Linked DNA regions of Homo sapiens. The protein of the gene in region 2 interacts with the protein of the main gene of each other region in a pairwise test. Each region holds a gene or a part of one and is shown on either strand. Other genes may lie near its edges. The genes, in order: EBAG9, TRAF3IP3, MOB4, WAC, CCDC138, NDEL1 and RIC3.

Region 1 (3,500 bases), on a different chromosome or scaffold from region 2:
GATAGAAGTTAATCTGGAGTTTTACCAATCCTAACCTTTTATGAGATTGTAAATTACCTTAGATACTAAGATCAAGGTCTCATTGTACACATGAAAGATAGAGATACAATGTTATTTAAAAATATAAACATCAGAGAGATTACCATTAAAATGAGAGATTAACCCTAATGGTAGATTATTTTAAAGTGAGTTATGAATTGTTTTCTTCATAGAGTGTATTTTCATTCAAAGTATGACTTAATTTTAAACGGTTTGACTTAAATGAAACTTTTTAAAGGAAAAATTTATGAAACAAGTAGACAGCTGAGGTTCTCAACCTTGGGAGCATATCAGAATCAGCTTTGGAGGTTTTTTAAAAGCACAAATGTCCAGACCCCTCCCTACCTAAGCTTTAAGCATGCTTTGATTGATTGATTATATTATCTGTTGTTGTGTAACAACTCCAAATTCAGTGACTTAAAATAATTACAAATATTAATGTAACACAGTTTCTGTGGATTGGGAATCCAGGTGACTAAACTGGGTGGTTCTAACTCAGAATTTCTCATGAGTTTGCAGACAAGTCATTGGGTTGGGGCTACAATCATCTGAAGGCTTGATTGTGGTCGAAGGATTCATTTCAAAGACAGCTCACTTCTACACCTGACAAATTAATGCTATTTGTTTGCACAAAGCCTCAGTTCCTTGCTGTGCACCTCTCCAAGGAGCTGCTTGAATTTCTTTATGATGTAACTCCTGATTTTCCCAGTAAGTTATAAGACGGTGAGAGCACTTGCTCATGGGTGAGGGTGACACCACAATGCCTTTTTGTGATGTGGTTTTATAAGTGATACACTGTCACTTCCATGTTATTTCATTAGAAGCCACTAAATCCAGCCCACATGCAAGCCTCCACCTCTTGAAGGAAGGAATGTCAAAGAATTTGTGGACATATTTTTAAATTACATCTGTCTGTCAATCTATGTATTTTATTTGTTTGTTTAAACTGCACAGTTGCTTCTGAGGTCCCTCTTCCCAGGGGACCCATGTATATGTATGTTTTTAATTCATTGAGTAAAAACACTGTTTTTACTAAAGCCAGGCCCTGTGGCATTAAAGGGTCTTTGCCTCAGAAAAATGCATTCTAGTAGGGGAGACATGATATTAAATGAATGATCACACACGTCAATATAATTACAAACTTTGATAATTCCTATGCAGTTACACGATGCTATGAACACATAACACCATAAATACTTAGCTGAATAACATAGCATTATAATGTTTTTTATTTTATATATCTCAAAATTAAATTTTATTCATAAATGTTTGATCCATATTGGTGAAATGCTTTAATCCCACCCACTGAATTAGCAATATTTGCCACCTAAATATAATTATAATACTATCATAGCTCATTGTAAAGTTTTAAATATACAACTACTTACAGAGTTGAGAAGGGGTAAATAGGGTAGATGGAGAATGTCTCCACTGCTATTTCCACGTATTTTCCTCCCAAGCAGACAGAATAAAGGGGCATTGCATAGGAGAGGATGGTAACCTATTGGACTTTGTTTTCTATACCAAAAATATCTTACCATTCATTCTACAAATTAGATTCTTCTTTTAAACTACACATTTTATTCTTTTCTAGAATTCATCATTCGTATTGTTGTGAGAGTTCTTTTATACCAAAGATAAATGTCATGTTTTATACTTTTTTAGTTTGTTAATTGGTTTGGATATTTTTGTTGGGCAGGTGTATTTAGTTTTTATGTAGACAAATCTATCAATGGTTTCCCCCTTTTCCTTTTTACTAAGGCCATCTCTACTAAAGGATCAGATACCACCCTTTTTAATGGTCTCTATAGTTTTACTTTTTAAAAAAAATCTAAATATTTTATGTACTCTAACAGTCAAATACTTTAGTGGAAGAATAGATAATATGAATGGGAAATTTACAAATAAGAAATAGACATAACCTAATTTGAAGAAAAGCTTGATCTTATTAGTGCTCAAAGTAGGCCCAGTGAGGTGTTACATGCCTGTAATCTCAGCACTTTGGGAGGCCAAGGCGGGCAGGTCACTTGAGCTCAGGAATTCGAGACCAGCCTAGGCAACATGGCGAAATCCCCCCTCTACAAAAATTAAAAAGTTAGCTGGGTGTGGTGGTGCGTGCCTGTAGTCCTCGCTACTTGGGAGGGACTGGGGTAAGAGGATTGCTTGAACCCAAGAGGTCGAGGCTGCCGTGAGCTGTGATCACACCACTACACTCCAGCCTAGGTGACAGAGTGAGACCTTGTCTCAAACAAAACAAAGTAAAATAACAAGATACAATTTTAAATCTTGTCAAATTAGTAAAGATAGAAAAGAAAGCCAGCCGAGTGCAGTGGCTCACACTTGTAATCCCAGCAATTTGGGAAATTGAGGCAGGAGGATCACTTGAGTTCAGGAGTTCAAGACCAACCTGAGCAACATAGCTAGACCTCATCTCTAAAAAAATGTAAAAAACAATCAGCCAGGTGTGGTGGCATGTGCCTATAGTCCCAGCTACTAGGGCAGCCGAGGTGGGAGGATCCCTTGAGCCCGGGAGTTTGAAGCTGCAGTGAACCATGATCACACCATGCACTCCAGCCTGGGCAACAAAGTGAAACGCTGATTCCTAAAAAAAAAAAGGGAGAAGAAAAGGCAGGATTTCTACCTACTGCGGTCAAGAGGATAACTTGGTACTTTTCAAGGCTGTCATTTGCACTTTGTTTCAGTAGCTTTAAAAATCCTCCTTTCAGAAATGTATATTAAATAATTAGAAATATTTTAAGAATTTTTAACAGAGTATGGTATTACATATATTCTCAGGAGAAGAAAACTCAAAACATTCTATTTCATTTTTAGGGGTAAGTATTTAAAACAATATGATATTAAATAAATGTGTTCACAGATTGGTACCAGTTATTTTACACACAGTCACTTCCACACCTACCTAAACAGTCCAGCATGACCATTTTCATTGGTTATTGAAAGAAAACAGTGAACTTTTAGAGGTCTGGCTTGGGAAATAGAGGTAGGGACCAGTAGATGATACCAGGTAAGAAAGACTGGGAAAAGGAAGCATGACCTAGAAGTATTTCATTAAAGATAAATTTTGCATGATTTGTCATTTTTGCCTAGGATTGAGACAGTAAGTGCCAATAAAAAATCTCCAGTAAGTTACATATGCTTAAATGAAGAATGACTGTGCTAGTTTTTGAACTTCAGCTCGCAGTTCTTCTCAGCACAGATTAGTCCAGTCAAGGATTTCTAATTCAGTCTGGGATCAGTCAGTTTCTTGTCACTCTATCCCCAGCTCCCTCATCTTACTGAGGAGAGAAAGAAACAAAAGACATGTTCTGTTCTTGTTCCTTCCAAAATAAAGTACAGCAAAGAAGAGAATTTAAGAGAGTATCCCATGAAACATAAAGAAGAAAGCTGGCCTTGCCTAGGACTGTTGAACACTGAAAGTCATACATCAGTTCTAGGCAAGC
Region 2 (3,500 bases):
ATCTAGAATTAAATGAGAAGAATGTTTTTGAACCTCAATCTTACTTTCGAGAAACACCACCAGATAGAGAATAACACACCCATTCCTACTTACCCATTTCTGGCTTGGCCATTTACACTTTAGTCTCTAATTCACTAGATCACTGTCTCCATCCTTCTTCCTCTCCCTTTCTCCCAGTATCCTTCTCTTTGCACCCTGGAGGAATCCCAGCACTAACCAGTTTGTCAGCTCCAGGGGAACCTTGAGAATACCTGACACTGTAGGGGAAGGCCCTTGGTAAAGACTCACATCACCCAGACAGCCCTTTACGCATCCTAATCTTTGAACAGATGAGTTAGATGTTATAATGAAGTCTTACAAAATTATTTTCATTCCATGGGTAACTTTTTTCTGTTTTTTCTAGCAACCCCTGGAAGAATGTAAAAGCTCTTTTACTTGGCTCTTCTGTAACACCATTTTCCAGCATTAGTAATCTCTTGATTGGCCTAATCTTGGTTTATAAGAGATAGAAAGAAATCAGCTTTCACATTTGAGAAGTGATGGATACCTGACAGGTGGGAAGATATCAAATCAGAGAATGGGGTGAAACAGGCAGAATTCTCCCATCTGGAGTTAGAGAGAGAAGACAGTCCTGGCCACATTGATGGCGTCTTACAGGGGAAGAGAGTTTATGGAGTCTATAAGTTTCTTGGTCCACAACTTTCATTTTTTCAGTATAACTTGCTTTGTCAGGACTAAATAATGCCAACCAAGTTCACAGGAGACTAATATATAATCCAGAATGCCAGTCTATTCATTTTCAATAGGGAATAACACATAACCAGTGCCCAGCATGGATGGTCATTGGATGTCCAATAACTGGGACATCCCCTACATATGACCTCAACCAGGTTAATTCCTGGATCTGGTTTTTAATGAAAGTTCCAAAACTATAAGACCCACTCAAATTTAAATCCAAAATTTCAGACAATTCCAAAGCTAAATGGAAATGATTTCATATTGATCCCTAAATTGTTGTCATCTGGTCTACTGCTTACACAGTAGGTAATCCAGAATTGACAATAAAATCTGCCTGCCTTCTCCGAAATCACAGGGCATAAAGATGAAAGAAAGGGAGAAGGCAAGACCCCCAGTGAATTTGCAAAGCTGCGCTTGTGTCTCCTTAATCCTGCAGCCAGGAGGAATTTTATAATGCAAATGTATTAATTTTAAAACATGAAGTTCATTAGGCATTGTAAAGAAGCTACAATGATTTTTTTTTAAAGCAGCAGCAGTATGCTCCCTCCCTGAAGGAGTTTACAATCCAGTATGAAAGACAGATGAGTCAATAGAGTAGAATAATAGAGGCATGCAGGGGATACTATGTGAACACCATGAACCCTAAGAAAAGCTACCTAATCCATAAGACATTGTGGGATGGGGGTAGTTGGTCAATTTATCAGAACTGATGATACTGGACTGAATCTTGAGTATTAGTAGAAGTTAACTGGCTGTAGGCAGAAGAAGCTACATGGGTAAAGGCAGAGCCCCAAAAAACAGAGTGCTGGGGGATCTGCAAACATCTCAGCTTAGGTGGAAGTAGCATGGGATGAAAGTCTAGGCGTGTAAGAGGAGCCATGACAAGGAGTTTGGATGTGATTCTTAGTATGCTGAGAATCCATGGAGAGATTTATACAGGAAGTGGCAAGATCAGATTTGCATTTTAGAAAGAACCCTCTAAATGCAGAACTGAAAAGGGACTGAAGGGAGGCAAGATTTGAAGAAAGGGAGGCTGTTGCATTAATCCACATAACACTACTACTAGAGCCTGAACTAAGGAAGCAGCAGTAGGGATAGAGAGGAGACAGATATGAGCTGTTAAGGAAATTGTCAAGGCTCAATGACCAACTGATTAGAGGGGGAGGAAGTGAGAGAGAAAATGAAGATTGACTCCCTGGTTTAGGGTTTGGAAAAGCCTGGATGGATGATGATTCTGGTCACTGAGATAGGAACCCCAAGAAAAAAGAACATGTTTAGAAAGATGAGTCCTGTTTAGACATCTTGGATTCCAAGAGCTTGCAGAAGGCCTCAGATATAATGCCCAGGAAGCCTAGGGCACTGTTTATTATGCCCTCCACTCATCTCTCATTGCCTGAGGGACTCTTCTTGCTAGCTCTACCCTAAAAGAAATGGCTCACTAGATTACTGGTATCTCTGCCTGGGGGAAGAACCAACTTCTTTTCATTTCTGTATCCCAGCTCAGGATTTGGCACACAGAAGCTCAATGTGTATTTGTTGAATTGCATCAAATTTACAGAAATACTCCCCTTGGGGAATGAAAAAAGTACTACTGGAGATGGAAGACCAGAAAAACAGCTATGAGCAGAAGGCCAAGGAGTCACTGCAGAAAGTGCTGGAGGAGAAAATGAATGCAGAGCAGCAACTACAGAGCACACAGGTATGGGGATGCCACATAGACATGGGGCTGGGGACTCCAGGCAGCTTGGGGAACAAGGGGAGCCAGCTGCACAACTCCCTGGAGCCCTCTCCTCTCTGATCTCCCTCAGCGATCCCTGGCCCTGGCAGAGCAGAAGTGTGAAGAGTGGAGGAGCCAGTATGAGGCTCTGAAGGAGGACTGGAGGACCCTTGGGACCCAGCACAGGGAGCTGGAGAGCCAACTCCACGTGCTTCAGTCCAAACTGCAGGTACCAGGCACTGGGGGTGGGGAGGGAAGACAGGGTATGGGGAGGAGGGATGGTGATGAAAGAAGCTGTTCTGGATTAGGGACTCCAAAGGCAGCTGACAGCATCTGGCTTTCAGTTCCTCAGTCACCACTACTTTGTACCAAATTCACTGTTTTGGCTCTGAAATCTAATTTTGAGTTTAGCAAGGATGTCTGCATTGCTCATGCAAATGAACTAAGCGTTCATTGGAATGACACCATCACCACCCAAATGAAAAGAACTGGCTGGAATATTCATCAGCCTACTAATGTCATCTCCCAACCCACTCTCCAAACTCCATCCCAAAAAAGCATCCAGTTCAGAATTGCCCACTGTTGGCAAAGAAAGAATGTCACTAATTTATTTACAGGTGAGTATTAACACTTTCTGCCAATGTGTATTTTAAGCAATTACATTTAGCAATTACAATTAGATTCTTGGCATCCTCAAGGGTTCCATCATCTTCAATCTGTCCTAAGCCTCAGTTTCCCCATCTCTAAAATGAGGATAATAGTACCTACATCATAAGGTGGTTCTGAGTATTAAGTAAGATGATCCATGTAAAGCACTTAGCACAATGCCTGGCACACAAAAACACTCAGTAAATATTAGCTATTATTTTGCATAGATTTATTTACCTGGTTTGGAATTTTGAGGATCCACCTCAAAAGCTGATCTTTGTAATTTTCCTGAAGCAGGGCTCAGAACAGCCCACTTGATAAGAGACAGAGTATGTGAGTCTTATCAAAGGAGTGAACCCAGCTGGTCACTCTGCGTGGTATCCACAGCTCAACCTTT
Region 3 (3,500 bases), on a different chromosome or scaffold from region 2:
GTGAAGAATAGATATGACTTTTTATTTATGTATTTGCATTTTCAGGCAGTTCTGCCTTGAGCTAAATGGACTTGCTGTCAAACTTCAGGTAATATTTTCTTTAAGTCAAAGTTATAATTGAAAGTTCTGATTTTTTTTTCTCTGTTTTTATAACTTAATGTGCTTACAAAAACGTATCCACATTTCTAACTTTCTTCTAGAATTTATTATGGAAATATAGTAACCTAAATGATAAGCTTTTTCATTATTATTTTACATATTAAGAAATATAATTATTTTTAACAGAGTGAATGCCATCCAGATACTTGCACTCAAATGACAGCAACTGAACAATGGATTTTTCTTTGTGCAGCTCATAAAACTCCAAAAGAGGTGAGGATTTATGAAATAGAGTAACTAATAAAATTATTATAGCCTAAATCTCTCTCAAGACAATGTTAGACAAGTTTTTAGGGTTTTTAGTTCACTGTTCATTTTGCTATTTCATTTTGAGTTGCTTGTTGTGAAGTTGTTACTGCAGTGCTATTTTAGGATTTCTTATGATAAGCATCATTTTTCATAATTGGGCAATTACATGGGCTAGAACTCACTTCATGATCCACTGGCTATTACGGATTAACATCTGTCACATTGTGCTGATATCTACTGTGTAATGATTGAGATACGCCTGTTTAGGTTTTTGTTCAGATTATTTCTTTTGATAGGAAGAACTATTGATTACTCTGATGCCTAGTTTAAGTAGAAATGTTACTTTTGAGCTTTTAAATATTCATGTTGTTTTTCTCCTTATTTAGTTTTTGTCAAGGTAAGACTATAGGCAGTAGCAGTTTTTTGTTTTGCTCTTTTTTTTTTTTGAGATGGATTCTTACTCCGTTGTCCAGGCTGGAGTGCAGTGGTATGATCTCGGTTCGCTGCAACCTCTGTCTCCGGATTCAGGAGATTCTCATGCATCAACCTCCCAAGTGGCTGAGATTACAGGCATGCGCTATCATGCCGGGCTAATTTTTATATTTTTAGTAGAGATGGGGTTTTGCTATATTGGCAAGCCTGGTCTCAAACTCCTGACCTCAAGTAATCTGCCCACCTCAGTCTCCCAAAGTGCTGGGATTACAGGTGTGAACCACTGTGCCTGGCCTACTGTACTTTTTCTTATTTAAAAAATTTCTTCATATCATCTGATACCCAGTATACTTTTCCTTAGTTGTCTCCAAAATGGTCTTTACATCTGGGTTGTTTATGCATTGCTTTTCCCTTAATCTGTATTCCCATTTAATCTGTTATAATTACTTTTTACTTGACACTGACTCACTGGGGATATTGGGTTAGGCCAATTCTGTAGAATCATAGACCTTGAAGTGGTCATTATATTGATAGACTTCTAAGGCTTGAAGACAAGTGAGGCCCTAGTTGCAAAATCAATATCTGATGTTTTTTGTTTCAAAAAGGACAAATGCTCCAAAATAAGGAGTATTTGATACCTAAGAGAATAGTACTTATTTGGAAGACTGGTTTCATTCAGGATGTCACATTTTTATGTTAATTAATTGAAGCAGTATTAAGATTGTATCTGTCGGCCGGGCGCGGTGGCTCACGCCTGTAATCCCAGCACTTTGGGAGGCCGAGGCGGGCGGATCACGAGGTCAGGAGATCGAGACCATCCCGGCTAAAACGGTGAAACCCCGTCTCTATTAAAAATACAAAAAATTAGCCGGGCGTAGTGGCGGGCGCCTGTAGTCCCAGCTACTTGGGAGGCTGAGGCAGGAGAATGGCGTGAACCCAGGAGGCGGAGCTTGCAGTGAGCCGAGATCCCGCCACTGCACTCCAGCCTGGGCGACAGAGCGAGACTCCGTCTCAAAAAAAATAAAAAATAAAAAAAATAAAAAGATTGTATCTGTCTACATCTGGGAAAATCCACATAGTGGTTTCATTGATAATTCACTGAAGTTGGCTACTTAACGTAGTGAATGATGTGATTATTGCAATTAGGAAACTGAATCAAGAAGGCTGAATCAAGGCTAGTTTTGTTTTGGCAAATAGTAATGATGTATTATTCTTTCTTTAGAGTGGAAGTGATATCCAGTTTGTGATGTGTTATGACTCTTAAATATACTGTCATTCTCATATCCACTTCTTTCTTGATTAATATTAAATGACAGGATAGTCATTAGCATTAAGACCTGTAAATTGAGTCTTAGAATTGCAGCATTGCTTGCTGAAGTCCAGATCTGTTGAACTGGCCATGTGTCAAGGGAGGGTGATAGTAGGATTTCCAAGTGGTAGTTATATTGAGTGGAGTTACTGTAAAAATACAAACAAAAGAACAATTTGAAAGGACACTTTCTGAACTGTTTTTGAATAACTGCTTAGTCAGGAAACTATAGGAACTGACAAACTAAGCTAAGAAAATTGCTCTCATGGATTAAAATCACTAGGGAGATTCTGAAGTGGGAGCAGCAGAATACTTAGCACCAATAATCATTTATTCAGTATCCTTGAGAATTAAAGAGAGGCATTCAGCATATAGAGTAAATTATACAAATAGTGCTTCTAGGCGACAAACATTATAACTTACTGTCTACAAGCCCTCACAGTCACATGCTGATTGTGATCACTTGCAGTAGCATTATGATTATATATTTGGAAAAATATAATACATAAAAATTTGTAAACACCATTACATAGTATTTTGTAACCTGCTATATTTTGCCATTTTTTGCTGTTATAACTGTTACAGAGTAGGAATAGTTACCTGAGAATTAACTGGGGGAAGGTGAAGGGAAGGCAGCTAAAAACAATGCAAAATGTCATCCAAATTAAAAATTCAGAAACCAGTTAAAGGTCTAAAGATACAGTGATGTGGTAACCCATGAGCCCCATGTAGCTGTGTAGCACTTGAAATGTGGGTAGTCAAAATTGAAATATGCTGTAAACACAAAATAAATACTGGATTTCGAAGACAGTAACGCCTGTAATCCCAGCACTTTGGGAGGCCGAGGCAGGTGGGTCACCTGAGGTCAGGAGTTCGAGACCAGCCTAGCCAACATGGTGAAACCCCATCTCTACTAAAAATACAAAAAATTAGCTGAGTGTGATGGGTGTGCACATGTAGTCCCAGCTACTAGGGAGGCTGAGGTGGGAGAATCACCTGAGCCCAAGGACTCAAGGTTGAAGTAAGCAAAGATCACACCACTACACTCCAGCCTATGTGACAGAGAGAGACCATGTCTCAAAAAAAGATTCAGAAATGGCCAGTAAGCACATGAAAAGATGCTCAACATTAGTTATTAAGGCACATCTCAAAACCACAGACAGTTGGTGCGAGGGTTGTGCGTTATTGTTATGCTGATTAACATTGTCTCCTCCACAACCATGCTTGATAAGGGAAAAAAAAAAACCACCGTGAGAATGGAGAAACAAAATGTAGCATGGACATACAATGAAATATTATAAAACCATGAAAGGGAATGAAGTTCTGATACATGCTACAACACAGATGAACC
Region 4 (3,500 bases), on a different chromosome or scaffold from region 2:
GTGGCTCATGCCTGTAATTCCAGCACTTGCTGAGGCTGGTGGGCCACTTAAGCCCAGACCAGCCTGGGCAACATGGTGAACCCCATCTCTACTAAAAATACAAAAACTTAGCCAGGTGTGGTGGTGAACGCCTGTAGTTCCAGCTACTTGGGAGGCTGAGGTGGGAGAATAACTTAAGCCTGGAAGGTGAAGGCTATGGTAAGCTGTGATTGCACAACCCTGTCTCCAAAATAAATAGTTGAAGAAATAATAGTTAATGTCAATAATAAAATATCTTACACATCAAAAATACATGGTATTCCTAAATACTTTTTTTTTTTTTTTTTTTTTGAGATGGAGTTTTTGCTCTTGTTGCCCAGGCTGGAGTGCAGTGGTGCAATCCCGGCTCACTGCAACCTCTGCCTCCCAGGTTCAAGCGATTCTCCTGCCTCAGCCTCCCTAGTAGCTGGGATTACAGGCACCTGCCACTATGCCCAGCTAATTTTTTGTATTTTTAGTAGAGACAGGGTTTCACTATGTTGGGCAGGCTGCTCTTGAACTCCTAACCTTAGGCGATCCACCTGCCTCAGCCTCCCAAAGTGCTGGGTGTGAGCTACCATGTCCGGCCAATACTCCCTTTTTTGTATCCATTTTTAGATTTATTAGGGTGGATCTTGATATAGGATTTGAATGGCCAGCTTGTCTAAAAGGGCAATCACATGAAATAGCAGTTGTTTATCCAGTTAATTCCATATAACATACTGAACACTCACATATGAATAGGTTTCTGACATAATTGGAAGTTCCTGTGAACACTCGTTAAATTTTGTAGAGAGACTTTGTTCAGGTGATCATCTTAATTAGTGTAAAAGAAACTCTGTTGGTTTACCTTTATTGTAAACCCATTAAGTTTCTTTTTCTCTGCCTCAGATCATTTCAAATTTGGGACCCATTGTATTACTCCTATCTAGTAGGCTTTTATTTTGAGAGTTCTAGGTTGAAATATTCCAGTTTCTTGTGAGTTCTCTTCCTTGTCAGGTTGTTACTAATGCCACATAAGCCTCTTGTTTTTATATGAATGTATGAAATAATATGTTTTTAGTTCTTACAGCAGCTGTGACACAAGCCTCACTGCAGTCTATAATTCATAAGTTTCTTACTGCTGGACCATCTGCTTTCAACATAACGTCTCTGATTTCTCAAGCTGCTCAGCTCTCTACACAAGGTATTCTTACTCATCTTAGATATCTCTAGAATGGCATCTTGATTTTGTTTTGGAATTAATAGCCCTTTTTTGTATTTAGTTTTTTCTTTCATTTTTTTTTTTAGTTTTTTAAGAGATTAGCTACAATAATTTTGTTTTTTTTGTAACACTGGCATATACAGTAGTATTTTTATTTCCTTTCTTTTTAGATGAAGCAAGCTTTGACATTTGTCTTAAGGTATTGCCATCAAATCTGTAATTATTTAAGACAGTATTTAATTCAGACTTTGTTATTAATGAGTTTTTTTATGCCAAAGCTGAAAGTAAACTATGATGTGCCATATATCTTTGTGAAACATTGCATGTATTTGAAGAGTTGAAGTTTGGTTCAGATTGACGTTAGATGTTTTTTGACTGGATAATATGGAAATGCTCATTTTCTGCCTTGAATTAGATATCCCTCTTCATGAAGGTATCCAAATGGAGAGAGATACACATAGGAGCAAATGGGAAGTGAAAGGGTCACTTTGTCAGAAAGCTGATAAACAGCAGGAATGCCTTGTCTGGAATGGAAGTATAATGGTGCAAAGACTCTTGCAACCCTCTGGCTAGCCTCATGAGCAGGAGACTGCGTGGGATACCTGGGCCTAAATGTAGAATAAGAAAGAAGAAATAAGGATGGTGAGGAGGCCTTCCATGTGAGATTAGGTTCAGGCCTAGCTTCCTGTTCCAGCCACATAAAGGAGAGTGGGCCACACTGGGTGTGCTTACCTCTGAACACACAGCTCACTTAGTCAGTGTGGCCCAGTGAGAAGGTCAGATTCTGATTTATTCCAATAAGTGTTCTCTGGGTAATATGGGGGTGGGGGGGTTTAGAGTAATACAAATATCTTTGCCACATATATTACAAAGGACTTTAGTTTTTTGTTTTGTTTTGTTTTTCTTTAAAATTAATTGCTTCCCTCTTTTACAGCCCAGCCATCTAATCAGTCTCCGATGTCTTTAACATCTGATGCGTCATCCCCAAGATCATATGTTTCTCCAAGAATAAGCACACCTCAAACTAACACAGTCCCTATCAAACCTTTGATCAGTACTCCTCCTGTTTCATCACAGCCAAAGGTATGTCACCTTTGAGGGACATTCGGAAAAGAAACTACTTACTTTTGGAAAGTCAATAACATTTTAGAATCTGTTATAGAAAAAGCCCTCTGAGAATGAGGTGTAGTGGTGGAATGAATGACAGGTATGATAGTAGATGCAGCCTAGAATTTCTCAGTTCACTGAGGGATAGAGGGGGGCTTTGAATCTGTGCTACTTTAATAAACCATCTGAGTCTGTTCCCTAATGGTTTTGGGATTTGTCACATGGAGAGTGAGATAAAGAGGATATACTGAGTCTTAATATTTGTAGAATTTTCAAACTCCAAAAGACATGAATGAACATGTTTTCCAGTGACTTTTCCATATTTGTATTTCAAAAATGAGGCAGTTTCTGTGCTAAGAACTTAATGTATGTTTAGCTTTCACATCGTGAGAATCACTTGCTTTATTTAATAGATGAGAAAATCAAACTCTCAGTTAAGTTTTTGTGGTAGAGTCAGAATTTGAAACCTAGGTGTTTGTGAATACAGGGACCCATTTTACTAAGCTTATATTGCCTGTATTTGTCCCAGCAGAATCTTACATGGTTGGCTCCATAGGTGCAGTTAGAAAATTGCTGGTCTAAATGGTAAATGTAGGGGGAATTTCTTTTGAGTAGTTTTGAAACAGTGGGCTGTTTCAGACTTTTTAATGCCAAATAATTCTTTGTAAGATATTAAGCAGAAGCCCAAAAATAAAAATGCATTGAAATATAACTTGAAAGAGGTGGTTGGTCAGCTTTTAAGTCTTCCCGTTTGTTCATCCCTTCCCTACCTTGGCCATTGATCATTGCATGTTTTAGGGTCAATTTAGATTGATTTTTAAAATTCCAAGTTACAGTTGTTAGTTTATTATGCAGTTCCTTATCATTTGCCAGTATTTTAAGGAGGAAAGAATTAAAATGTGAGTTTTGGCAAAAGAGATGTTATTTTTGGAGCTTAGAACTTGTCTTCAGGGTGGCATTTTAAGAGTATAGTAAATAGTGGTTAAAAGTGAAATAAGTGGTAGTATTGGTTTTATAGTCACTTGTAAACTGAGCATTTCAACTCCTTTAAGAAGGCTGGGCGCGGTGGCTCACAGCTATAATTACAGCACTTAGGAGGCCAAGGCAGGAGGATTGAATTAGGCCCTGGGCAATATAGCAAGACCCCATCTCTACAAAAATAATTTGAAAA
Region 5 (3,308 bases), on a different chromosome or scaffold from region 2:
CATAGTGTTTTCAGAAAGCTTACAAATTTGTGTTGGGCCACATTCAAAGCCATCCTGGGCCGCATGCAGCCCATGGGCTGCAGGTTGGACAAGCTTGATTTAGACCTTTCTGAATCCCATGCTACTTAAGCTTTGATTATTAAAAAAAAATTTCCATTATACAGATGTAGAAAATTAAGATTCATAAATACTAACGCTGATCTAAGACCACATATTTAGTGACAGACTAGAATTAGAGTTCTGATCTCAGAACATCTAGTTGTTTCTATAGCTCATTTCAGATAAATGAACTTTAAATGCTTCATATAAAAGTAAGAGCAGTTTTTAGCAACCAAGTAATAATATCAGAATAAATTCTTGCATACTGGTATTCTGTAATACCACAGGTGAAAATAAAAAGATAAAAGTATTTTGCAAATCCTTATTGATGTACTAAAGTGAATTTAGGGAATGAGAATGAAGCAAGCAGAAGAGATTTGAAATTACTTTGGTAACGGGATTTATTTTAGTAAACTCTTATGGACTGCCTACTGCCACTAATTTGGATTTTTTTATGAGAATCATGGGCTTTGTTTCCTCATCTTTCTCCTGACTCAGAAACTTGTATAACCAGTTACTAAACTATAAATAAGGACATCGATTTTAAGTTGTATTTTCCGTGATTCTTGGTATGCTGTAGTGTTTCCTTTGAGGCAAATCTGGACACCTTCTATCTCAACTCATTTGTATAACAGTAACATTTTTATTTTGATTTAGGTTCAGCTCTTCTCCTCCTGGCCTCATCCCCTCATCCATGATTCCCGTGGTAGAGAATTTAGATTTTACCAGGCTTCCATATGCTTGAGTAGTAAATGCAATGCATCTTGAAATTATTTGTAGATAGGGATTAAGAGATCCATATGTTCTATTTGGTAACATGCCTAGTAGAGGATTGTAATAAATTATTGTCAAATTATAACCTTATAATTTGACTGACCAAGTTACTAGCGCTGAATTTATCAATTTACTGTCTTCCTTTTCTTGCAGACTATACCGTGATTCTCTTGATTTCAGTAAATTCCTAGTAAGGCCTATTGCAGTTACCTTATGGTGCCATGAAGCTGCAATAACATTACTTAGATTTAATTCTTTTTTACTTCTTAATTCATGGGATTTTTTTTTTTTAAAGGTAGTCCCAAAGTGCAAGTATAACCTTGGGCCAAAATGTTTTACTATTCATGATGTGTTTGTAGCTTAGGTTCATTTTAGACTTAGATAAAAAAACAAAGCTTGAACAAGAAGACTGGGAATAGTTGATGCTCAAGCAGATCTTAAAATAAATCTTTAAGACCACAAAAGATGTAAATCCTTTTGTATTAGGATAGTACATAAGAGTTTGTATTAGGACAAACTCTCTCAAGAGAGTTTGTCAAATAACTAGACAAGGAAATAAGAAACAAAGCTAGACAAGGAAATAAGAAACAAAGCTAGACAAGGAAATAAGAAACACGTATACATATGTAACTAACCTGCACAATGTGCACATGTACCCTAAAACTTAAAGTATAATAAAAAAAAAAAAAAAAAGAAACAAATTCTTAATGATTGAAATGAAATTACTGACAGGTTATTAGAAAGAGGATGGTTGAACAAGTATTCTATAGCCAAGTCAAAAGATAAACCAATATTCTGCCACTTTAAAAAGGCCTGCTTACTCAAAATAGGATGATCAAATGTTTGTCTGTTTTGCTAGCTGTGAAAAAAAAAATTCTCACGCTCTCTAATAGTGAATAGGGTGCAATTTTCAGGGTTGTAAAATGGTTCCAGGCTGGGCACAGTGGTTCACATCTGTAGTCTCAGCACTTTGGGAGGCCAAGGAAGGAGGATCGCCTGAGCCCAGAAGTTCAAGACCAGCCTTAGCAACATAGTGACACCCTGTCTCTACAAAAAATAAACAAAATTAGCCAGGTTTGGTGATGTGCGCCTGTAGTCCTAGCTACTTGGGAGGCTGAGATGGGAGGATTGCTTGAGCTGGGGAGGTTGAGGCTGCAGTAAGCTGTGTTCATGCCACTGCACTCCACCTGGGTGCCAGAATAAGACCTTATCTCAAAAGAAAAAAAAGTTTTCTTTTTTCCCCAGTGGTTTTCTGCTTCAGGTTTATCTCATAAAACCTATTTTGTTTGTTTCAGCATTCTAATCTTTTAGTTGCCTATTTTCTCCACTGTTTTTAAAAACAGATGCCATTTCCTCATGTTTACACATAAATTATCTGTCAGTGTCATTGCAGATAAACTCTCTAAGTATGTGTAATTAAATAATGTATTCATTTTTTTTACAGGAGTAATAAGAAGCTCTTTGAACTTTTTACGATTCATCTGATGCTTCAAGAAATACAAAGGACAACAAACCCAGAGCATGCATTTCTCTGTATTAATCTAAATTCAACTCTGTTCAATCTGGGTTTAACAAAATGTAACTCCCTGGTCTCCAGTGCAAGCCCTTAGACTGGCTAATTTTTTAATATAGTATATGTGGTGCTTATTTATAAACATGTAGAAATTACCAAAGTAACTACAATTCTACCAAGTAAAGTTATCAGTAGCATCATTTATCATGAAAAATAAATAATTTTTTTGAACTGTAAAAATGAAATCTGTAGAAGGTATTGGAACTTTTGGAATGTTTCAGTTCAGGTAAGGTAATACTAATATACAAGATGGCGTTTCTAGAATGTATGACACTGAAGTGACTTTTTGTAAAAATATATTAGGAAAATTATTTCTTAAAATTATGTGATTATTTGGAATAAAATTGGTGCTTATGTGAGAACAGGGTTAAATAATACTGTCTTTCTATTTTCCTAATATATTAGAATCCTTGCTTTTGAAAGCAAAAATGTATATCTTTAAACTATCATCTTGATACCATAACTTTTCTATATACTGTATCCTAGATTAACAGATGTTGATTTTTTTTTTATTGTGCTCTTTGTGGGATAGAAAAAGTTTTTTATTATGCTGTTCACAGGTTTAAAAACTTTTGTTTTCAAAATAATTATTACTGGAGCATGTATATACAAGGCAAGACATTTTTTAAACATTGAAAGGTAAACAAAAATAATCGTCCTGTTACCAGAGATATCTCTTGGTATAGCCAAAGATGAGTAAAGTGGCCACAGGTCTGGGTGAAGTAAAGGTGGTAAAACTTGGGACTTAGGACAGGATACTGAGAAACATTGTTTTAAAGAGTCATAAAATCATATATGATCAGTGTATAATCTCAGTTTCAGGAGTTAGAAGAAATTTTCAAGAAACTATTGGGCCTCTTCA
Region 6 (3,500 bases), on a different chromosome or scaffold from region 2:
CCTGTAATCCCAGCTACTTGGGAGGCCAAGGCAGGAGAATCACTTGAACCCAGGAGGCGGAAGTTGCAATGAGCCAAGATCGCACCATTGCACTCTAGCCTGGGCAAAAAAAGCAAAACTCTGTCAAAAAAAAAAAAAAAAAAGAGAAGAAAAAGAAAAGAAAAGAAAGAAAGGAAGAAAGAAAAAGAAAGAAAGAGAAAGAAAGAAAGAAAGAGAAACAAACATTGTAAAAGGTAAAATACAATTAAAGACAGACCACTTCAGAAAGATCAGCTCTAAGATCTTACCGATTTCTCTGACCACCTGCTGCTGCTCACAACTCTGTGCTTTCTTGTAATGAAATTGCAGTGATCTAGTACACAGCAGCTTTTAGGTTAGCCAGTGAAAATTCATGCTATTGGTTCCAGCCTAAAAACATATCTATTAAGCAAATATTACTGCCATAGGGTTGGCACACCTCATGCCGTGCCACAGCAGGCTCCATGTCCTTTTGACTCCCCAAGTCCCTGAATGAAAACTCTAACGGGCTATTAAAAAAAAATGTGCACCACCTGTGGGTGTCACCGCACCTGAGGCTTTTCACTATTCTGATTCGTCTTCAATTAAAGGATTTTCAGATCTGCATAATTCTAATCAGTAACATAAAAGTAAAACTTTGTTAGTCCTCAGGTGTAATTGTGAAATCTTCAAATATACAAGCAGCTCTTCTGAAAAACTGACCGTGAGGGCTCCTGATGACTGCTAATAATCTATTGCCTGCCCTTTGTCCTCAGCAGTAAACCTAGCGCAATTAGTAACACCTTACAACCATACAGCACCTTCACATACCTTATCTGATATCATCTCGTAACAAGGCAAAGACAAGTTGAATTACCTACTCAAGGGTTACTGAGCACTTGAAATGTGGTTAATGTGACAAAGAAACTGAATTTTATATTTTATTTCATTTTAATATAAATTTAAATAGCCACATGGGCTGGTGACTATTGAGTAGCACAGACAGAGAGAGCTCACTGTACTAGTTGCCCACATAGCATTCTAAAAGATAAAACCCTATATTTTAAAAAGGGTGGGATGACAGCTTCAATATAGGGTGGAAAAAAAAAGCAAGGGGGGATGAGAGTAGCAGAAATATGAACTACGAGCTGCAAAATCTAAACAAATCTCAATTGAGAGCTTTAAGATTCCATTTTAAGGTTCTATCTAGTGGCTACTAGGTGGTTTTTCTGCTTATCCGGATTTTAAAAAAACACACTGGTTCATGGCAATGTGAGTATTCTGTATGTGCCAATCATCAATTACTCCGAACAATGCTTTTGAAAATGGCAGCTCCTGAAGCATGTAACAGAATGGGCATGTCCATCCAAGCCGGTCTTACATGAGTCTGAAAGATAACTTAATGATTCTCTGTACATTCTATGTAGAAAGGCCTCAGGTCTCCCATGATATGGAAAGTGGCAAAAGGAAGAAATAAAACTGTGTTTAAATATGATCCCCAAATTTGCATGTGACAAAGAGATGTGCACAAACACACACAAGCACACAATAGAAAAAAAAACTCAAAATGTTAATGGTGGGTGCCTGTAAGTGGTAAGATAACATGATTTTTATTTTCTTTTTCTGTGTTTTTAAAATTTTCTACCTAAACATACGGCTGTAATCACAAAATCTATTGCTATCATCAAAAAATAAACTTTCCTTAAAAACCTTTAACTTTTAAAAATCTCATCTTAAATGTAACCATCATTTCACTGTTTCCTATATATTAGTGGCCTAGGAAAACAATTCCTTCTTCTATTTCACATAGCACTAGACTTCACCAACTTTTAAACTAAAATTACTCTTTAAACCTTAGCAACCGCCTTCAGCAACAAACCCCCGTAAGCTGATCATCTAACACATCGCCTCAAAAAGAAAAGACATTACAAACCTTTCGGTGAAGGAAAAGTGTTCTCCGTTCCTTTGCCAACAGGGGTAGCTGGCAAAGAAAGTGATGCTTGGACGGCGGAGTCCATCTTTTCACAGTCTAGAGTTGGAGAGCTAGGAGCCGACTTTCTAGTTACTTCCTGTTGTCTTTCCCGAACTGCTAGTTCTTGCCTTAAATCTGTAAAATATTGCAAACAAGGGCAGGAATACTCACTAGAGGGAGCAAATATATCAAGCAAAGTGACATCTAAAATGTCATAAAGGTCTTCTTCCTAAATTACTATTTCTCAAAAATGAATTTCCTATTTAAGTATAACTTTCATTTCTAGGGGAATAAAAATGGCAAAACTACTGTCTAAATGATCTTTTAGAATTTAAAAATGCTATAACCTGAGAGAAGTTACTTATGCTTATATGCAAAAAGAAACAGTGCAGAGTCCACAGTACAATTCACACAAAAGTAAATATTCTTCACCAACTTATTTGCTTTTATTTTCAAATGATGTAGTTTTGGGGTTATTGCAAAATCAACTAAGTGCATTTTTGTAATTTTAAATGGGCTGGCATTAACTATTATCACTATGAAATATTTACTTTTAGAAAAGAAGTATTCAGAACGGTTTAAATTTTTCTCATGCTTTCAAATATTGAGCGTTTTTTTTTTTTTTTGAGACGGAGTCTCACTCTGTCGCCCAGGCTAGAGTGCAGTGACGCAATCTCGGCTCACTGCAACCTCCACCTCCTGGGTTCAAGCGATTCTCCTGCCTCAGCCTCCCAAGTAGCTGGGATTACAGGTGCCCGCCACCACACCCAGCTAATTTTTTTTTTTGAATTTTTAGTAGAGATGGGGTTTCACCATGTTGGTCAGGCTGGTCTCGAACTCCTAACCTCAAATGATCCACCCGCCTCAGCCTCCCAAAGTGCTAGAATTACAGGCGTGAGCCGCCACACCCAGCCAATGTCGAGTTTTTAACCCAAAATTAATGTTATCTTTTCCAATTATGCAATTTAACTTACAGAATATTTGCTTGTGTTAAAAAAGGAACAAAGTCATCCCCCTTTTGGGTATGTATCCAAAAGAATTCAAAACAGGATCTCAAAGAGATATTTGGACACCCATGTTCACAGCGGTATCATTCGCAATAGCAAGAGATGGGAGCAACTCGATGTCCATCCACAGATGAACAGATAAAGAAAATGAATACATACAATGGAGTATCATTCAGCCTTAAAAAAGAAGGAAATTTTGTCACATACTACACATGGATAAACCTTGAGGACATTATGCTAAATGCAATAAACCAGTCACAAATACTGTATAATCTCCCTTATATGAGGTATCTAAAGTAGCTGAACTCATAGAAAATAGAACTGTGGTTGCCAGGGGCTGAAGGGAAGGGAAAATGGGTAGTCACTATTCAATAGGTATAGTTTCAGTTTTGCAAGATGAAAAAGTTCTAAAAATTTGTTTACACAACAATTTGACTATACTTAACACTACTGGACTGTACACTTTAAAATGATTAAGAAGCCAGGCACAGTGGCTCACACCCATAATCCCAACATTTTGGGAG
Region 7 (3,500 bases), on a different chromosome or scaffold from region 2:
ATCCATTCATGGATGTTCAGATTGATGCTATAGTGTGGCTATTGTGAATAATGCTGCAGTGAACATGGGAGTGCAGATATCTTTTTGACATACTGATTTCTTATCTTTTGGATATATATCCAGTAGTGGGATTACTGGATCATATGATAGTTCTATTTTTAATTTGTTGAGGAGCCAGTATACTGTTTTCCATAGTGACTGTACTAGTTTACATTCCCAGCAATAGTATATAAGGGTTCCCTTTTCTCTACATCCTTGCTGACACTTATTATTGCCTTTTGTCTTTTTGATAATAGCCATTCTAACAGATGTGGTGATATTGTGGTTTAAATTTTCATTTCTTGAATGTTTAATGATGTTGAGCACTTTCTCATATGCCTGTTGACTATTTTTCTGTCTTCTCTTGAGAAGTGTCTATTTATATCCTTTGCCCATTTTTAAATTGGGTTTTCTTTTGCTGTGGAGTTGAGTTCCTTATATATTTTGCATATTAACCCATTATCAAATATATGGTTTGCAAATATTTTCTCCCATTACATAGATTGTCTCTTTACTGTTGTTTCCTTTGCTGTACAGAAACTTTCAGTAATCCCATTTGTCTATTTTCACTTTTGTTGCATGGGCTTTTGGTGTCATATCCAAAAATATCATTGTCCAGACCAATGTCATGGAGCTTTTTCCCTAGGTTTTCTTCTAGTAGTTTTACAGCTTCAGGTCTTATGTTTAAGTCTTCAGTGCATTTTGAGTTGATTTTTGTAAATGTGAGGTGTGAGATGAGGGTCTAATTTCACTGTTTTGCATGTGGATATCTAGTTTCCCCACACCATTTATTGAAGAGATTGTCCTTTGACCTTTTTGTGTTTGTCCTTTGACCTGTGTGTGTGTGTGTTTTATTTTTTGGCATCTTTGTTTAAAAAAATTGACCATAAATATGTGGATTTATTTCTGGGCTTTTATTCTGTTCCATCAGTCTGTGTGTCTGTTTTTATGCCAGTAACATACTGTTTTGATTACTATAGCTTTGTAGTAGATTTGGGAATCAGGTACTGTGATGCCTCTGGCTTTGTTCTTTTTGTTCACAATTGCTTTGGCCATTTGGGGTCTTTTGTGGTTCCATATGAATTTTAGAATTGTTTCTTCTATTTCTGTGAAAATTGTCATTGAAATTTTGATAGGGATTGTATTAAATCTGTAGATTGCTTTGTATAGTATGGACATTATAGCAGTATCAATTCTTCCAATCCATAAACGGGACATCTTTTCATTTTATTTGTGTCTTCTTCAATTTCTTTCATCAATGTTTTATAGTTTTCATTTCAGCCTCCCAAGTAGCTGGGATTACAGGCATGCACCACCATGCCGAGCTAATTTTGTATTTTTAGTAGAGGTGGAGTTTCACCATGTTGGTCAGGCTGGTCTCGAACTCCTGACCTCAGGTGATCCACCTGTCACAGCCTCCCAAAGTGCTGGGATTACAGGCGTTAGCCACCGCACCTAGCCTATACTTTCATATATATATATATGTATATTTGTGTTACTGAATAGTGTCCCTTGCTCTCTACTTGAAGAACACCCTTGAGCATTTTTTATAAGATAGATCTTGTGGGGATAAGCTCCTTCAGCTTTTGTCTGGCAGAGTCTTTGTTTTTTCCTCATTTCTGAAGGAGAGCTTTGCCAACTACAATATTCTTGGTTGACCTTTTTTTTTTTTGTTTTTGTTTTTGTTTTCCGTAAGCATTTTGAATATATTATCCCACTCTTTTCTGGCCTTTAAGGTTTCTGCTGATAAATCTGTTAGAACTCCCTTATAATGTGATGTACTTTTTTTCTTTTGCTGCTTCCAGCATCCTCTCTGTCTTTGATTTTTGATAGTTTGATTATAATACTTCTTGATATAGTCTTACTTGAGTTCAGTCTGATTGGAGACTTTTGACCTTCTTGTACCCAGATATTTATAACTTTCCCCAGATTTGTATAGTTTTCTGCTATTATTTCTTTAAGCTTTCTATCCCTTTGTGTCCGTCTCCTCCTTCTTGAACTCCAGTTCCCATAAATCCCATAAGCTTGCTTTCTTTTCATTCTTTTTTTCTCATCCAACTGTATATTGTCAAATAATCTGTCTTTAGATTCAAAGGTTCATTCTTTTGCTCAATCAGTTCTGCTGTTGATACTCTCTATTGCATTTTTCATTTCAATTCTCGTATTTTTCAGCTGTAGAATTTCTGTTTGATTTTTTTAATATAATTTCAATCTCTCGTAAATTTTTTGTTTTAGTTATTTATTGTTTTCCTGGTTTCCTTTAATTGTTTCTCTGTATTTTCTTGAAGTTCGCTGAGTTTCCTTAAAACAGTTATCTTGAATTCTTTGTCAGGCAGTTCATGTGTCTTCTTTTTCTTTCTTTCTTTCTTTTTTTTTTTTTGAGATGGAGTTTTGTTCTTGTTGCCCAGGCTGGAGTGCAATGGCTTGATCTTGGCTCACTGGAACCTCTGCCTCCTGGGTTCAAGCGATTCTTCTGCCTCAGCCTCCTGAGTAGCTGGAATTACAGGCGCCTGCCACCACGCCCGGCTAATTTTTTGTATTTTTAGTAGAGATAGGATTTTACCATGTTGGCCAGGTTGGTTTTGAACTCCTAACCTCAGGTGATCCATTTGTCTTGGCCTCCTAAAGTGTGTGAGATTACAAGCGTGAGCCATCACGCCCGGCCGTATCTTCATTTCTTTAGAGTCTGTTCCTGGTGCTTTATTTTGTTCATTGGTGGCAACATGTTTCCTTGATTGTTCTTGATCCTCATGGCTATGCATTGGTATCTGTGCATTTGAAGAAGCAGGGACTTTTGCTGGTGAATGGTTTTTGCATTCTGGCTTTGTCCGGAAAAGCCATTCACCAGTCAGCCTGCCCAGAGATTCTGGGTAGGCCATTTGGTGTGATCTGCAGGTAGACTTGCTGGTAGAGTCCTTAGGCAGGGTGGCCTGGTGTTGAGTCCGTGGGGTTGGGGTTGAAGCCTGGATCCACTGGGGTGTACCTGTTGATTGGATCCTCAGGCATGGACCTGGTGCTTGTATCTTGTGCAGAGAGGCTATCCCAAAGCCTAGGTCCACAAGGGCTGACCTGGGGCTGGACTGGGCCTTGAGCCTGGGTCTTCAGAGATTGGCCAGGTGCTAGGATGAACCTGGTGCCCGGGTCCACTGAAATGGGCCTGGAGGCTGAGTCTGATGGATGTGTCTGAAGGCTAGGTTCATTAGGGCTGGCTTGGGTCCTGGGGCCACAGGCCTCAGCCTAGAACCTAGGTCCATAGGGGCAGTCCTGGGGTTCTGAGGGCCGGCCCAATGCTGGGGTCTACTGGGTTGGGCTAGACCCAGGGTCTGCTGGATTGTGGGAATGCAGGGGCCAACCTGAAGGTGGGGGTGGTCATAGAGACTAGCCTGGCACTGGGCAGGCCTGGAGCCTGTGTCTGCAGGCTCCAATTTGGGTGCCATTGGGGTGCCAATTTGGCACTGGGC

Evidence for each region.
Region 1: the proteins of TRAF3IP3 (region 2) and EBAG9 interact in binary tests that used the Homo sapiens proteins (3 or more experiments, as listed by UniProt).
Region 3: the proteins of TRAF3IP3 (region 2) and MOB4 interact in binary tests that used the Homo sapiens proteins (3 or more experiments, as listed by UniProt).
Region 4: the proteins of TRAF3IP3 (region 2) and WAC interact in binary tests that used the Homo sapiens proteins (3 or more experiments, as listed by UniProt).
Region 5: the proteins of TRAF3IP3 (region 2) and CCDC138 interact in binary tests that used the Homo sapiens proteins (3 or more experiments, as listed by UniProt).
Region 6: the proteins of TRAF3IP3 (region 2) and NDEL1 interact in binary tests that used the Homo sapiens proteins (3 or more experiments, as listed by UniProt).
Region 7: the proteins of TRAF3IP3 (region 2) and RIC3 interact in binary tests that used the Homo sapiens proteins (3 or more experiments, as listed by UniProt).

The regions. Positions count from the first base shown.
Region 1 is NC_000008.11:109,557,173-109,560,672, forward strand, and holds part of EBAG9 (receptor-binding cancer antigen expressed on SiSo cells), read left to right. Parts: intron 1-3,500. UniProt on the Homo sapiens protein: May participate in suppression of cell proliferation and induces apoptotic cell death through activation of interleukin-1-beta converting enzyme (ICE)-like proteases.
Region 2 is NC_000001.11:209,773,053-209,776,552, forward strand, and holds part of TRAF3IP3 (TRAF3-interacting JNK-activating modulator), read left to right. Parts: intron 1-2,237; coding exon of another isoform or gene 2,238-2,296; coding exon 2,297-2,437; intron 2,438-2,521; coding exon of another isoform or gene 2,522-2,536; exon of another isoform or gene 2,537-2,546; coding exon 2,547-2,684; coding exon of another isoform or gene 2,685-3,072; intron 3,073-3,500. UniProt on the Homo sapiens protein: Adapter protein that plays essential roles in both innate and adaptive immunity. Plays a crucial role in the regulation of thymocyte development.
Region 3 is NC_000002.12:197,540,066-197,543,565, forward strand, and holds part of MOB4 (MOB-like protein phocein), read left to right. Parts: intron 1-45; coding exon 46-88; intron 89-285; coding exon 286-372; intron 373-3,500. Other genes in the region: HSPE1-MOB4 protein, read left to right, coding at 46-88, 286-372.
Region 4 is NC_000010.11:28,609,618-28,613,117, forward strand, and holds part of WAC (WW domain-containing adapter protein with coiled-coil), read left to right. Parts: intron 1-1,081; coding exon 1,082-1,204; intron 1,205-1,637; exon of another isoform or gene 1,638-1,864; intron 1,865-2,156; coding exon 2,157-2,305; intron 2,306-3,500.
Region 5 is NC_000002.12:108,873,771-108,877,078, forward strand, and holds the end of CCDC138 (coiled-coil domain-containing protein 138), read left to right. Parts: intron 1-2,317; coding exon 2,318-2,483; 3' UTR 2,484-2,808; downstream 2,809-3,308.
Region 6 is NC_000017.11:8,449,384-8,452,883, reverse strand, and holds part of NDEL1 (nuclear distribution protein nudE-like 1), read right to left. Parts: intron 2,105-3,500; coding exon 1,931-2,104; intron 1-1,930. UniProt on the Homo sapiens protein: Required for organization of the cellular microtubule array and microtubule anchoring at the centrosome. May regulate microtubule organization at least in part by targeting the microtubule severing protein KATNA1 to the centrosome.
Region 7 is NC_000011.10:8,113,526-8,117,025, reverse strand, and holds part of RIC3 (protein RIC-3 isoform a precursor), read left to right. Parts: intron 1-3,500. UniProt on the Homo sapiens protein: Molecular chaperone which facilitates proper subunit assembly and surface trafficking of alpha-7 (CHRNA7) and alpha-8 (CHRNA8) nicotinic acetylcholine receptors.